2 separate regions of the Homo sapiens genome follow, and region 2 is linked to region 1. Evidence: fine-mapped QTL for protein levels in blood plasma. A gene starts in region 1. The other region holds a variant in brackets. All regions are shown on one strand. Distances are from middle to middle.

Region 1 (2,930 bases):
CTTTAGGAAAATGCTCTAACATCTGGGCTGTTGTATCCTCATCAGCTCATTGAAAGCCATACACAGGAGCCTGAAGAGTTTTGTATAGCTCAATCACCCAGTGTATGCATCTGATGAGCCAGAATTCTATAATAGGCCATGATGCCATACTCTCCTCTTTGCTGCTCTTCTCTCTCATAACCTCAACCATCTAACCTATACTCATCTTCATTGAGTCAATGAAAGCAATGTCACTGTTGGTGAGAGTATATTCAAGGAAAAATATTTTTTTCTATTCCATATAATTACATTTTATTCCTTTAAACCCATATTGATATATAGTTGAAAAGTTGGCTACCATTTTTTTTCTTTGCTACTTACTAATGGTGAAGTACTGTGCTCTTTCTTGCAGGTGTTTTAAGATCAGGATGACATGGTTTTCCTAGAGTGTCTTTAGGAGGGCCATGGTGTATAATTTTATAACCCTAGAACAAGGAAACAAAATATTTAAAATAAAGATGTGAAGAATACCCTTATAGATGGTATCTATAATCTTTGTCACAAACTTAAATTTTGACTCAATTGTTTAGTATTGTTTCTAATAATTTACTGTATTTATTTGATTTCAGCGTTAAGACCATATTGTCCTTCTGAGGTCAGATTGTATTTCAACGCCCTGATATTTCCTTCAAACACTAACAAAAAAGTGGACTTCTTGAAGTTCAGTAACTACTAGTTGGCTAACTTGCTTGGAAAATTGCAACCTTTTTTCAAGACTCCCAACCCCTTATCTAGGACTTCAACCCATTCTTTAAAAGATCATTTCCATAAGCAGTGTCCCACATGGTAAGTATTAACTACGTGGATTTGGGGGTAACAGCTTTGTCTCTTCATTTTTTTTTTAAATTCTGGAAGCCAATAGATGATATAAAGTCCAGCAGAGTCAATGACCCCAACTCTAATTGTTATTACAGTTTCTAATAACTGTACATTCAAAACATCAATTAGAAACTAAGAGTCTTAATTTGACTTCGTAAAAAGCAGATTGAGAAATGACTTCAGGCTTCTACTATGATTCAATGGGTCTTATGTACTTAGAATGATTTCTCTTTTAAGGTAGGTAAAGAGTTTCAATAGACTAAACATAGAGAAGCATGTTGAAAGTTATGGTAGGTCGGCGCTAAGCAACAAAATTGAACTCTCAGTCTGCCCGGCATTAGCTATGTGCCCTCCAGATGCCGGAAGAGGAGCGAAGGAGGATCAGAAACCCCCTCACCTCAACGATGGTTCTCTCCCCTGTGCTTCACCCCACCTCCCCGTCCCTAGCCATTTCTAGTCTCCAATCCGGGTCTTACATTTACCCTGGCTCCAGAGCACAGACCTTCCTGCAGTTGGGCCGGCGCGTTGCGGCGTTGAGGAGCTGCGGCGCGCCCCTCTCACCGCGATTGTTCACTTGCCAGGCGCCACGTGTGGGCGACGTCACTGGGCTTTATGCTTTCATCGCCGCTATCTGCCTACGTGAGCTGCTCTCCTCCCATCGCCCCCGCCTCCCCTACTACGGAGAAAATCTTGCACGTTTTCCCTTGTGAAAAGCAGAGTTCTCTTTTTCTCATTACCACCAGTTGATGAGGAAAGAAAATGTCTGTTCGCATACCTGCGCCGTACTAGGAGGAGGAGGGAGGTCATATAAGGATTCGGGTTGCCCAGGGGGTGGCTTGAAAAAGGAGGCGTTCGCATTCAAACAAGAATGCCTGAATTAATGTAGTTCAATTTAAAGAGCTAATTAGGAGTCCACAGGTGCTTAAGTTTGCAGTGCGCTGCCAGTGTCATGCCAACGACGCACTCCAGTTACACAGGTTGTCAGTTTCAGGCTCCCTCATAAACACTTCATGTTCTTGTCCCTCTTCCCCGTTGGCAACAGTTTTATGGTGAGAAAATTCACGAAGAGTAACAGGAACAACTCTTATGAAAATACGCAGAACTCCTGACCCAAGGCTACTGGCTGCAAGTTTAGCATACGTATCAAGCATGGGTTAAAGACATGTTTTCTCTCTCAGAAGGCGGATGAGTAATAGGTGCATTTTCTTCTATTCACAGTTGTTTTCAAAGCGAAAAGGAGTGAATTCGCTTATGACCTAGAGGAAGAGAGATGGGTCAAAAGATGTCAAGCCAAGGATTAATATCCGTCATACCTTGGTTCTCTGTAAGCCATGCAATAAGAGGCTTGAGATTTCACCAACTCTGGAGACTCACTTGGGCACAACTGAAACTATAACAAACTTGGTGCTCAGTGCCATTTTCCTTTGGCAGTGTTACAAGGTAATTTCAAGGGATCAGCACACAGACATTGTTTTAGTTTTCTTTTGCTGCTTATTTCAGTTCATGCAGCACTGACTAAAAATTTTGGAATTTAGACTGCTTAACGCTTATATCTACATCCAATATCAAAATTCATTACTGACAGTTTGCCTTTCTAAATATTTATGAAATCTAGTCCTCAATCTGTCCCTCACTTCTATATTCATGTTTTCACCATATCTTGCTTAAGTTATTAATTGGACATTTCAAATACCTATATGCACAAAATCTCTGCCTACCTATTTGTTCTTTCTTTCTAGTGCCGAACAATTCATTCTCAGCACTATAATAGTCTATCATTTACTGTGAATATCTTATTTTTCATTTTTGGAGAAGAGTCATTCCTGTAATTATTACTTGTTCCCATATTCACATTGATGATATCAGAATGAGAGCAACTTGAGCGCTGTGGTGCCAGATATTGTTGGTGAACCTGAATTTCAGAAATTGGCTATGTCTGTCTTGATTATTGCTGTATCTCCAAAACTAACACAATACCAAATATAGGTGGTAGTTTGTAAATATTTGTTAAGTGAGTAAATATTGACCCGACATAGATTCTTAGAAAATACAGAAAAAAGGACATAAAATCT
Region 2 (2,930 bases), 32 kb before region 1:
GGTTGGTCTCGAACTCCTGACCTCAGGTGATCCACCAGCTGTGGCCTTCCAAAGTGCTGGGATTACAGGTGTGAGCCACTGCACCCAGCCGACTTTTATTTTAAATTAAGGGTATATGTGCAGGTTTGTTACATAGGTAAAGTTGTATCATAGCAGTTTGTTGTACAGATTATTTCATCACCCAGGTATTAGGCCTAGTATCCATCAGTTATTTTTCCTGATCCTCTCCCTCCTGCATCCTCCACCCTCTGATAAGTTCCAGTGTGTGTTGTTCCCCTGTATGTGTCCATGAGTTCTCATCATTTAGCTCCCACTTATAAGTGAGAATATGTGGTGTTTGGTTTTCTGTTTCTGTGTTAGTTTCCTAATGATAATGGCCTCCAGCTCTATCCATGTTCCTGCATAGGACATGATCTCATTCTTTTTTATGGCTGCATAATATTCTATGGTGTATATGTACCACATTTTCTTTTTTCCAGTCTATCATTGATGGGCATTTAGGTTGATTCCATGTCTTTGCTATTGTGAATAGTGCTGCAATTAACATATATGTGCACGTGTCTTTATGATAGAACAACTCATATTCCTTTGGGTATATACCCAGTAATGGGATTGCTGAGTTGAATGGTATTTATGACTTTAGGTCTTTGAGGAATTGCCACACTGTCATCTACAATGGCTGAACTAATTTACACTCTCACCAACAGTGTATAAGCATTCCTTTTCTCCACAACCTTGCCAACATCTGTTATTTTTTGACTTTTTAATAACAGCTATTCTGACTGGTGTGAGACGGTCTCTCATTGTGGTTTTGATTTGCATTTCTCTAATGATCCGTGATGTTGAACTTTTTTGGTATGATTGTTGGTTGCATGAATGTCTTCTTTTGAAAAGTGTCTGTTCATATCCTTTTCCCACTTTTTAATGAGGTTTTATTTTTTCTTGTAAATTTAAGTTTCCTGTAGATGCTAGATATTAGACCTTTGTCAGATGCATAGTTTGCAAAAATTGTCACCCATTATGTAGGTTGTCTGTTTAATTGTTGATAATTTCTTATGCTGTACAGAAACTCTTTAGTTTAATCAGATCCCATTTGTTAATTTATGTTTTTGTTGCAATTGCTTTTGGCATCTTCATTATGAAATCTTTGCCCATGCCTATGCCCTAAATGGTATTTCCTAAGTTGTCTTCCAGAGTTTTTATAGTTTTGGGTTTTACATTTAAGTGTTTAATCCATCTTGAGTTAATTTTTATATATGGTCTAATGAAGGGGTCCAGTTTTAATCTTCTACATGTGGTTAGTCAGTTACCCCAGCACCATTTATTGAATAGGGAGTCCTTTCCCCATTGCTTGTTTTTGTCAGATTTCTCAGAGATCAGATAGTTGTAGGTGTGCTGTCTTAATTCTGGGTTCTCTATTCTGTTCCACTGGTCTGTTTATCTGTTTTTGTACTTACCAGTATCATGCTGTTTTGGTT[A/T]CTAAGCCCTGTAGTAATTTTTCAACTAGATTAAGCATTTTTTCAACTAGATTAAGATATCCATAATAATATTAGTATATAGACCCACATTTGAACAAAGTACTTAATGAATTCTGCTGAAACTTTAGATTAAATGTGGGCAATAACATATAGATTTATAAAACAGAATCAATTTTGATTTATATTTATAAACTATCAAAAAGAAACAAATTTAGTGTAGCAAATTTAAAAATTATATTTTACTGTTTTACATATAATATCATGGTTTAAAAATGATGAAATCACTTTAAATTGGAGGAATTTCTCATAGATTAATGCCAAAGTTTTCTTTTATTTTTTTCCCAGGCTGGCCTCAAACTACTGAGTTCAAGCAATCCTCCTATCTCAGCCTCCTAAGTAGCTTGGATTCCAAGTGCACACCACCATGCCCAGCTTCAAGATTTTTTTTTGCCCTTTCCATTTGTCATATGTTAATCAATATGTTGCTTTCCTCCTTGTCATTATTCCTTGTTAACTGACAGTGATCTCATGATCACCTTGAAATGTTTTTTAATATCCCCCAAGCATTTAAATAATTATTTACTATGTCCTCACAGGTTAGATCATTCTTTTTCTCCTTCAGATAATTGTGCCAGGCTGTAGAGTTTAAAGATCCATCTCCGTGAAATAAAGTAATAAAAAATAAAAGTTAAATAATCATCTGTCTCTCTGGCATCTATACTATACTATTTCATCCTTTCCTCATCTTCTTGTTTTTGACACTTTTGGTGGACCTTTGCTCTTATTTTCACAAACTTTTTTAAATTCTGGGATTTAGCATATTGTTTCACTTACTTCCCAGGAATCTCAGGTGGTATTGTGGCTTTAGGTGCCGTCTATACAAAGATGATTTTCAAATCTTTATCTCCATTTTAGACTAAATCCCTCCTTATATATTCAACTGTCTTCTCTATGCCTACACTTTCAACATGTCCAAACTGAACACCTGATTTAGTTCTAGCAACCATATAACATACTCTAGTTATCTATTTATTTTCTTTCTCTCTTTCCCTTTCTTCCTTCCTTCTTCCCCATCCCTCCCTCCCTCCCTCCTCCTCCTCCTATTCCTCCTGTTCCTCCTCTTCCTCCTTCTCCTTCCTTCCCACCTCCCTCCTTCCCTCCATCTTTCTCTTTCTTTCTTTTTCTTTCTTTCTTTTTCTTTCTTTCTTTCTTTCTTTCTTTCTTTCTTTCTTTCTTTCTTTCTTTCTTTCTTCTTTCTTTCTTTTCTTTCTTTCTTCTCTCTCTTTCTGTCTCTTTCTCTTTCTTTTTCTTTTTTCTCTTTCTTTTTCTCTTTCTTTTTCTTTCTTTTTTCTTCCTTCTTTTTCCTTCCTTCCTCCCTCCCTTCCCTCATTCCTGCCCTCTCTCCTTCTCTTCCTCCTTTCCCTCCTTCCCTCCATCCCTTCCTCCCTTCCT

Alleles and levels. Alleles are on the strand shown, and positions count from the first base shown. The strength of an association depends on the size of the effect and on how common the allele is.
With allele T in place of A in region 2, the plasma level of the protein whose gene starts at base 1,403 in region 1 is lower (strong association).

The links. PIP is the chance, under the fine-mapping model, that this variant and not a neighbour inherited with it causes the effect. The UK Biobank Pharma Proteomics Project read protein levels with antibody pairs (Olink). The fine-mapping took linkage between variants from a reference panel, not from the people measured, so its PIPs are less certain.
Region 2: its variant is fine-mapped to the plasma level of the CRISP2 protein (UK Biobank, PIP above 0.99).

Annotation. Positions count from the first base shown.
Region 1 is chr6:49,712,141-49,715,070 of GRCh38, forward strand. It overlaps CRISP2 (cysteine rich secretory protein 2), which reads right to left and starts at 1,403. Exons shown (of 10, transcript NM_003296.4): 1 at 1,335-1,403; 2 at 361-464.
Region 2 is chr6:49,679,916-49,682,845 of GRCh38, forward strand. It overlaps a transcript of CRISP2 not described here. Among named protein-coding and RNA genes, the nearest start is that of CRISP2, 32 kb to the right of the region's middle. The variant A/T (reference allele first, on the strand shown) is at 1,479.